2 linked regions of the Homo sapiens genome follow. The protein of the gene in region 2 purifies or fractionates together with the protein of the main gene of each other region. This does not show direct contact. Each region holds a gene or a part of one and is shown on either strand. Other genes may lie near its edges.

Evidence for each region. The genes of interacting proteins can lie anywhere in the genome.
Region 1: the proteins of ATF7IP2 (region 2) and STRA6 purify together in Homo sapiens (affinity purification with mass spectrometry; one large-scale study listed by BioGRID and IntAct). This does not show direct contact.

What each region holds. Positions count from the first base shown.
Region 1 is NC_000015.10:74,196,288-74,199,787, forward strand, and holds part of STRA6 (receptor for retinol uptake STRA6), read right to left. Parts: intron 1,532-3,500; coding exon 1,465-1,531; intron 1,137-1,464; coding exon 1,051-1,136; intron 1-1,050. UniProt on the Homo sapiens protein: Functions as a retinol transporter. Accepts all-trans retinol from the extracellular retinol-binding protein RBP4, facilitates retinol transport across the cell membrane, and then transfers retinol to the cytoplasmic retinol-binding protein RBP1.
Region 2 is NC_000016.10:10,431,061-10,434,560, reverse strand, and holds part of ATF7IP2 (activating transcription factor 7-interacting protein 2), read right to left. Parts: coding exon 3,106-3,500; intron 1,048-3,105; exon of another isoform or gene 1,037-1,047; coding exon 912-1,036; intron 1-911. UniProt on the Homo sapiens protein: Recruiter that couples transcriptional factors to general transcription apparatus and thereby modulates transcription regulation and chromatin formation. Can both act as an activator or a repressor depending on the context.

The DNA.
Region 1 (3,500 bases), on a different chromosome or scaffold from region 2:
ATTCCATAGATATTTGTGGAGTGCCTCTTATCTACCAAGCTCTGGGCCCCGTGCCAAAGGGACTTGGGACACACATACAGTGGGAAGAAGCCCTAAGACTGCTCCTCCGCCCACCCTGGAAGCTCCAGGAAGCAGCCACCTCCACACTAATTGGTCTGTCTGAGCTGGCAAACCTTCAGAGAACTCAGCGAGTCACAACATCCTTGTACAACAGCCGCCGCCCTGGGCTGGGTGTGGACCCGGGGCAGAGGGCAGACAGCGGGCATAGCTGTCCCAGGCATCACCCTTCTGGGCTCAGGGCAAGCCACTCAGACCCACAGCTTCTGCACTGCAGCTTGCATTCATGCTCTGAGAGGTTCATTCTCCCTCAAACACTGCCCCAGCCAGGGCAAGCTCTTTCTGGGGCCAACCAGAGACCCCAGGCTGGTTCCCCACAAAACCAGCACAGCAAGACCTGCCTCGGTGCACAGTCTGGGTCTGGGATGTGAAGCTGTCTACACCAAGGAGCCACCCATCACCTGCCCCAACCCTTTGGTCTCTCGCACACTAGCTTGCCCAGCCCCATCTCCTCAGGATCATGCCTGTCCAGGCTCTGGAGTCACAGGGCTGAAGGAGATAGGAGAAGAAAGCTCCAGCTATAGGGGCTAGATGTCAGTCCCCATAAATCTGCCTTCAAGCATTAGGGTCCAGGTGATACCCTCAGGGAAGATGACGGTCAAGATGGCATTGGGATGGTCACGTCAATCCACACATGGAGGGCTGCCTGAGAAGGTACACTCTGACGCTGGGTCCTGTCAGGCTTGTTTCCCTAGGGTCTGGGTTGGAGTCCTTTCTCCCAGGCGGGCTTGAGCGAGTCCCTCCCCCTTCCTCTGGGGGTCCTGACTAAACCTGGAGACCTAGGTGGGGGTGAGGAAAGCTCCAGGCTGAGGGCGATAGGGATGTCATTAAAGCCAGAGCTGCCTTTTAGGTACCTAACAAATCACCCACCCTCCCAGAGGGACCCTGTCAGCTGGGTCCCCTGAGTGGGGGTGCCCAGGCCATGGTACAAACCTGGGCAGGCCGGGCCTGCCACGCACACAGTCAGGCCAGAGCTGGCGGCGCCTCACCAGCATGGCCAGGAGCAGCAGCACAAGGATCTGAAAGGAGAGTGCAGAGGAGGGCTTGGGGTGCCCAGGCCTCCCCTGAGGGTCTGAGTTTGAGGGCTTGGACTCAGGCCCCAGGATATCCCCTACCTGCCCAGTGCACACTCATGTGACATCTTGGGGACTGGTCAAGGGGTGACAGACATCTGGAAGGTTGGACTTGCATCCTGGTTTGGGCCTCCAAGCTGGGAGAACTCCCAGATAGCTCCCCCCACCCAGGATCTTCCAGGGCCCCCCTTCACCAGCCCCAGTGGGGAACACAGGTCCCACTGCCCAGGCTGGCAGCAGCTTGCAAGCCAGGTTCAACTTGGGTTGGACTCACTGACAGCGAGGCCAGGCAGGCGTGGTACAGGCCGGGTGGTATGCTGGTGTGGCAGGAGGGCACTTCCCTGCAGAGCAAATGAAGGCTGGCTCAGGCCTGCGTCAGGCCCCCCTGGGTGTGCAGATGGGTCTGGGGTTCAAGACTGTTCACACTGAGGCTTTACCCACTACCTCCCTCAACCCTCTGATCCCTCCTACACAAGCCTTCCCAGTCCCACCTTCTCAGGGTCATTCTGGGGCCCTCGTGTCCCTGTGATGTGCCAGCCCCATGCCAAGCTCTGGGGTTATAAGACTAAAGGACATGGGAAGCTCCCAGGGGAAGCAGAGTAGACCGGCTCGGCCTGATCACTTATTCTCTTTTTTTTTTTTCTGGAGGGACAGGGTCTTGCTCTGTCACCCAGGCTGGAGTGCAGTGGCTCGATCTCGGCTTACTGCAGCCTCAGCCTCCTGGGCTCAAAAGATCCTCCCACCTCAGCCTCATGAGTAGCTGGGACCACAGGTGTGCACCACCATGCCTGGCATTTTTTTTTCTGTATTTTTAGTAGAGACAGGGCCTCACCATGTCGCCCAGGCTGGTCTTGGATTTCTGAGCTCAAGCAATCCTCATGCCTCAGCCTCCCAAAGTGCTGGGATTACAGGTGTGAGCCACTGTGCCCGGCTGAGCACTTATTCTTGCTCACCCAGATGCTTCCTGTCCTTCAAGGCCTCCCCTCTCCAGGGAGCCCCTCTGACTGCTCCTGGTCTCACAGACGTCTTCTCAGAACTGCAGTTGAGCACACTACCTGGGTCAAGCAGTCAAGGGTTTGGCCCTGTGATTCGCCCTCTACTCACTGCCATCTGAGGTTGGTCTGTGACTAAAATGATCTCCCCTGGTCCCTCTCTTTTCCTGCTTCCCTCTCATTGAGAGCCTCCATGGACAGCCATGCAGGTTGCCCACTGCACAAAGATGCTCAGCCAAGGGAACGAGCAGGCCACCCTGCTCACCAAACCCAGCACCTGCTGAGCTGAATGCACCTAACTGGGGATCCCTTTCTCTAATTCCACAGAGGCTCCCTATGGCCTGGCAATGGTCCTGCACTCACCCTGGCTGAGCGCAGAGGTAAACCCACAGTGGAGATAGGGGTCACTGAGGACAATGAAACCCTCCGCTTCCCCAGCAGAATCATGTGGTGGAGAAAGGGAGTGAGGCAGGAGTCCTGAGCTCAGGGCTGGCCCTGGCCCTGGGAGAGTAGGCAGGACTGGGTCCCTGGTGAGCAGTAGAGCTCCGGGTTTTCCCAGCTTGGGCCTGGGAGAGCCAGAGGGAGGGTGGCAGCATGGGTGAGGCCAGTGGGGTCTGGTGGGCGAGGGCCTGAGATGGAGCCTGGGCTGCCGCCAGTCCCTGCCTGCACAGAGGGCTTAGCCGCCCACCAAAACGCCCTCCACTGTATGAAGAGAGGCATCAAGGCTGCATTATCCAGGGGAGTGCAGAGCCCTGGGATGCTCTGCTGGGTCAGCTCGGTCTGTCCTGCTCGCTTTCTCTCAGGAAATCCCAGCGGGTGAGCGGTGGGAAAGAAACCAGTCACTTGGTGGAGAGGCAGAGTAAGTCAGCTCTGGGCAGCTTCTTGGCCAGGAGACCAGCCTCTTCCCAAAGTAGAACTGGGATCGTGAGTAGCAGCCACACTGACTCCAGTGTCAGCTCCCCACCTCCAGCTCCAAGGCCTCTCACTCTGGTGCGTAGGGCAGCCCTCCCTCTCAGCCGGCATCTCCCCGCATGACTAGGTCCCGCTCCACCTTTACACCTGGGCCCGGCAGGGACTTGGAAAACTGTCCCTGGAGTAGTTTGACCATTTTCCTATGGACCTTACCCCAAACCACCCCTACCCCCAGAAATGCCCTCCAGGGCCCTGCCTGGGGGAGCCTCTGGCCCTTTCTGTATCACCTGAGGTCCCCATCTGACCTCTCAGCTCAGTGTGAGGGGTCAGATGGGGATCTCAGGTGGCATAGAAATGAGCAAATATTTGGCTAGTGGCTTGTGGCCCCACTTTTTGTGCCATGGGA
Region 2 (3,500 bases):
CGTAACTCTTTCCCTTTATTTTCCCTTATTATTAGGTGAAGAATACACATTCATAGTATATGTAACTATGTAATTGTAATGGTCTGTTTTAAAAAATGGTAGTGTTTCTGTTTCTGAAACAGTTTGCAGGGTAGTTTAGACGGGGAAATTTCGGTCCATTACAGCTGGAAGACATTAGTCTACTAGGTAATGATTTGTAGTGGTGGCATTCTAGTGGTAGTGAAATAGGAAAACATGGTCATCAAAACCCGTCCTCAGTATAACCATTCTACTAGAACTGAAACACGCTACATACACTTCAGCTAACAATTGATCAAACGCATACTGAGACTGTAGTACAATGAGATAAAATGAGGCCACAATGAAAGCAAGAAGTGTATTTAATGATGCTATACAGCAAAATGTCAGATAATGTACCATATCCGTTTAAGTTTGGAAAATAGGGCAAGTAAACCTGAATGCACAGGGACTTTGCAATGGACTTCCAGGTTGTTTGAGTCTTCTGGGTTGTGGTGAGATCTACAAATGGATAGAGCTGCAGATCTAAGAACCCCATGACTAGTACAAAAGAGACTGGATTCTTTAATAAAGCTGAAGGTCATGCAGTGTCTGACTTACAGACAAATATGAGTGTAATACTGACTGAAAGCCCATTCTCTTTTTGCAACAGGACTCTACCTACACATGATCCCTAGGTTATTCTGCATGAGACCATTTTCAAGAAACCAGAGCTGTTTTGGTAATGTAAGTAGTTATCTCTCCCCAGTCTGTCTGATAATTTGGCTTTCACACACCAGCTCTGCAGCAAGTGAAAGTCGTCTGTATTATGCCACTGTGGGGACCAGATAATTAACTTTTACCATGTTTTACTAATCAAAAGTAAAAGTTCCATTTAAGCCCCAATATTTTACCTGTTCCAGGAATGCTGTTTGCCTTTCCAAACTTACACAAATATTTTCATTAATTTGCTCTGAAGTTTTCATGCGTTTAACATTTTCCTCGTTTTCTGAAAACATCCTCTTCTTTTGATAATGGCCTTGAGGAGATCAAAAGATTAGAAAGAAAGATATTTTAAAGAAAAAAACAGGTTCAGTGTGGTGGCTCATGTCTGTAATCCCAGCACTCTGGGAGGCTAAGGAGGGAGGGTGGCTTAAGGCCAGGAGTTCAAGACCAGCCTGGGCAACATAGTGAAAATTCATCTCCACAAAAAATTTAAAATTAGCTGGGTATGGTGGGGCATGCCCGTAGTCTCAGCTACTCAGGAGGTTGAGGTGAGAGGATTGCTTGAGGCTGGGAGGTTGAGGTGGCAGTGAGCACCTTGACTACTGCACTCTAGCCTGGGCAACACAGTGAGACCCTGTTTCAAGGAGGAAAAAAGAGAAGGAAATAGGAATTCTCTAATTTAGAGACCCTCTGAGCAAATGGAAAAACTAAAATGTGACACTGCAGCATTTTTTAGAACATTCAATTGCATAAATACGTACCCACAAACTAACCTTGAAAAAAAATGAGTTATCTTAGGTAGGGTTCTGGTCTCAGATACTCTGTCCCTTTAATCTTACTTAATAACTCAATACACATATACGAACAAAAACTTAACAAATTATGGCATTTAATTCTCTATTTATAGTGACTTAAGTGGTTCTACGTTATTTTATATAAAGGTACTCTTTTTTCATTTTGAGAAGGAGTCTCACTCTTGTCGCCCAGGCAAGAGTGAAGTGGCACGATCTTGGCTCAGTGCAACTTCCGCCCCCCAGGTTCAAGCAATTCTCCTGTCTCAGTCTCCCAAGTAGCTGCGATAATAATAATAGGTGCCCACCACCACGCCTGGCTAATTTTTTTTGTATTTTTAGTAGAGACGGGGTTTCGCCATGTTGGCCAGGCTGGTCTTGAACTCCTGACCTCAGGTGATCCACCTGCCTCAACCTTCCAAAGTGCTGGGATTGTATTCGTTAGGCACAGCGCCCGGCTTCTTTTTTTTTCTTTAAGAGACAGGGTCTTGGATCTGTTGCCCAGGCTAGCCTGGATGGCTCAAGCGATCCTCCTGCCTCGGCCTCCCAAAGTGCTGTTAATTACAGGCATGAGCCACCACACCCAGCCTATTATACATATTTGAAATAGATGATACTGTTATTATTTTTAAGGAATTTTAAATTCATCTTGTTAAATGACCATTCTGTAGTCTAGACAAGAACACAAAATTTATAGCATTAAATCAGTTTTTTTCTATTTCATTAACAAAATACCCTACTTCAAATGAAATTCACTTTTGCTATTTTAATGATGTTATAACCCAAGGACTTCATTTATTATTTGGGGTGCTTCTCTTTCTCTACACACACATATACACATGTGTGAATATATTATCTATCATACTTAGCATGTGATTTACAGGTCAATTCTATAGAAAGAAATAGGGTTGGCTGGGCACAGTGGCTCACGCCTGTAATCCCAGCACTTTGGGAGGCCAAGGCGGGTGGATCACGAGGTCAGGAGTTCGAGACCAGCATGACCAACATGGTGAAACCCTGTTTCTACTAAAAATACAAAAAAAAAAAAAAAAAAAATTAGCCGGGCGTAGTGGTGCCCATCTGTAATCCCACCTACTCAGGAGGCTGAGGCAGGCAAATCACTCGAACCCAGGAGGTGGGGGTTGCAGTGAGCCAAGATCGCGCCACTGCACTCCAGCCTGAGCGACAGAGCGAGACTCCGTCTCAAAAAAAAAAAAAAAAAAAAAGAAATAGGGTTACCAACAATTTTTAAAACTCACTCTTTCAACTAGCCTCCTTCTTAATCTAATAAAACTTCAAAATAAGAAGAGATGTATATGAAATGAACCAAATAATTGCTATAAACCACCTTTTGATATTTTGTACTTAAGGAAAAGTGATTGATTCCTTCTTTGCAATAATTACCCTTTTAATATGGTGGATACCTGTCCCCCACCTCACTAAGAATGGTTCAGAAACAAGATACTGTGAAATAATTGTCATCATTTACCTTTTTTCTGTCTATACTGGTTTGTATATTTGAGACTTTAAAATACCCTAAAGAAAAGTGACTATTTTAATTTTTCTAAAAGGTGCATAAGTATATACTTACTGTTGTTATTAGTGTCAAGTGATGACTGCCATGTTGAGTCTGCACTTTCACAATTTGAAATACTGGTTCTACTACACTCATCAGTTTTCAAAATGTCATCAGCACAGTTGTTAGAAGTGACTGAATTCACCAAATTAGGTGTTTTCTCAACAGGCACAAAACCTGAGTCTTCTGAACATAAAATGTTGTCACTTTGCCTTTTATCATGTGATTCTGAATTGGAGTTTGTTTCTAAATGGAAAACCATCTGGTCAGTTTTCTTGTCACCCACGGTACTGGTTACTGTAGACTCTGGCATCTGAACAACACCACTCAATACACTGGGTGGACAGCAACTGGACTTTAGACTACAAGCCCCCTCATGCTCAAAAAGGGATCTTGTTACATTTGTCTGA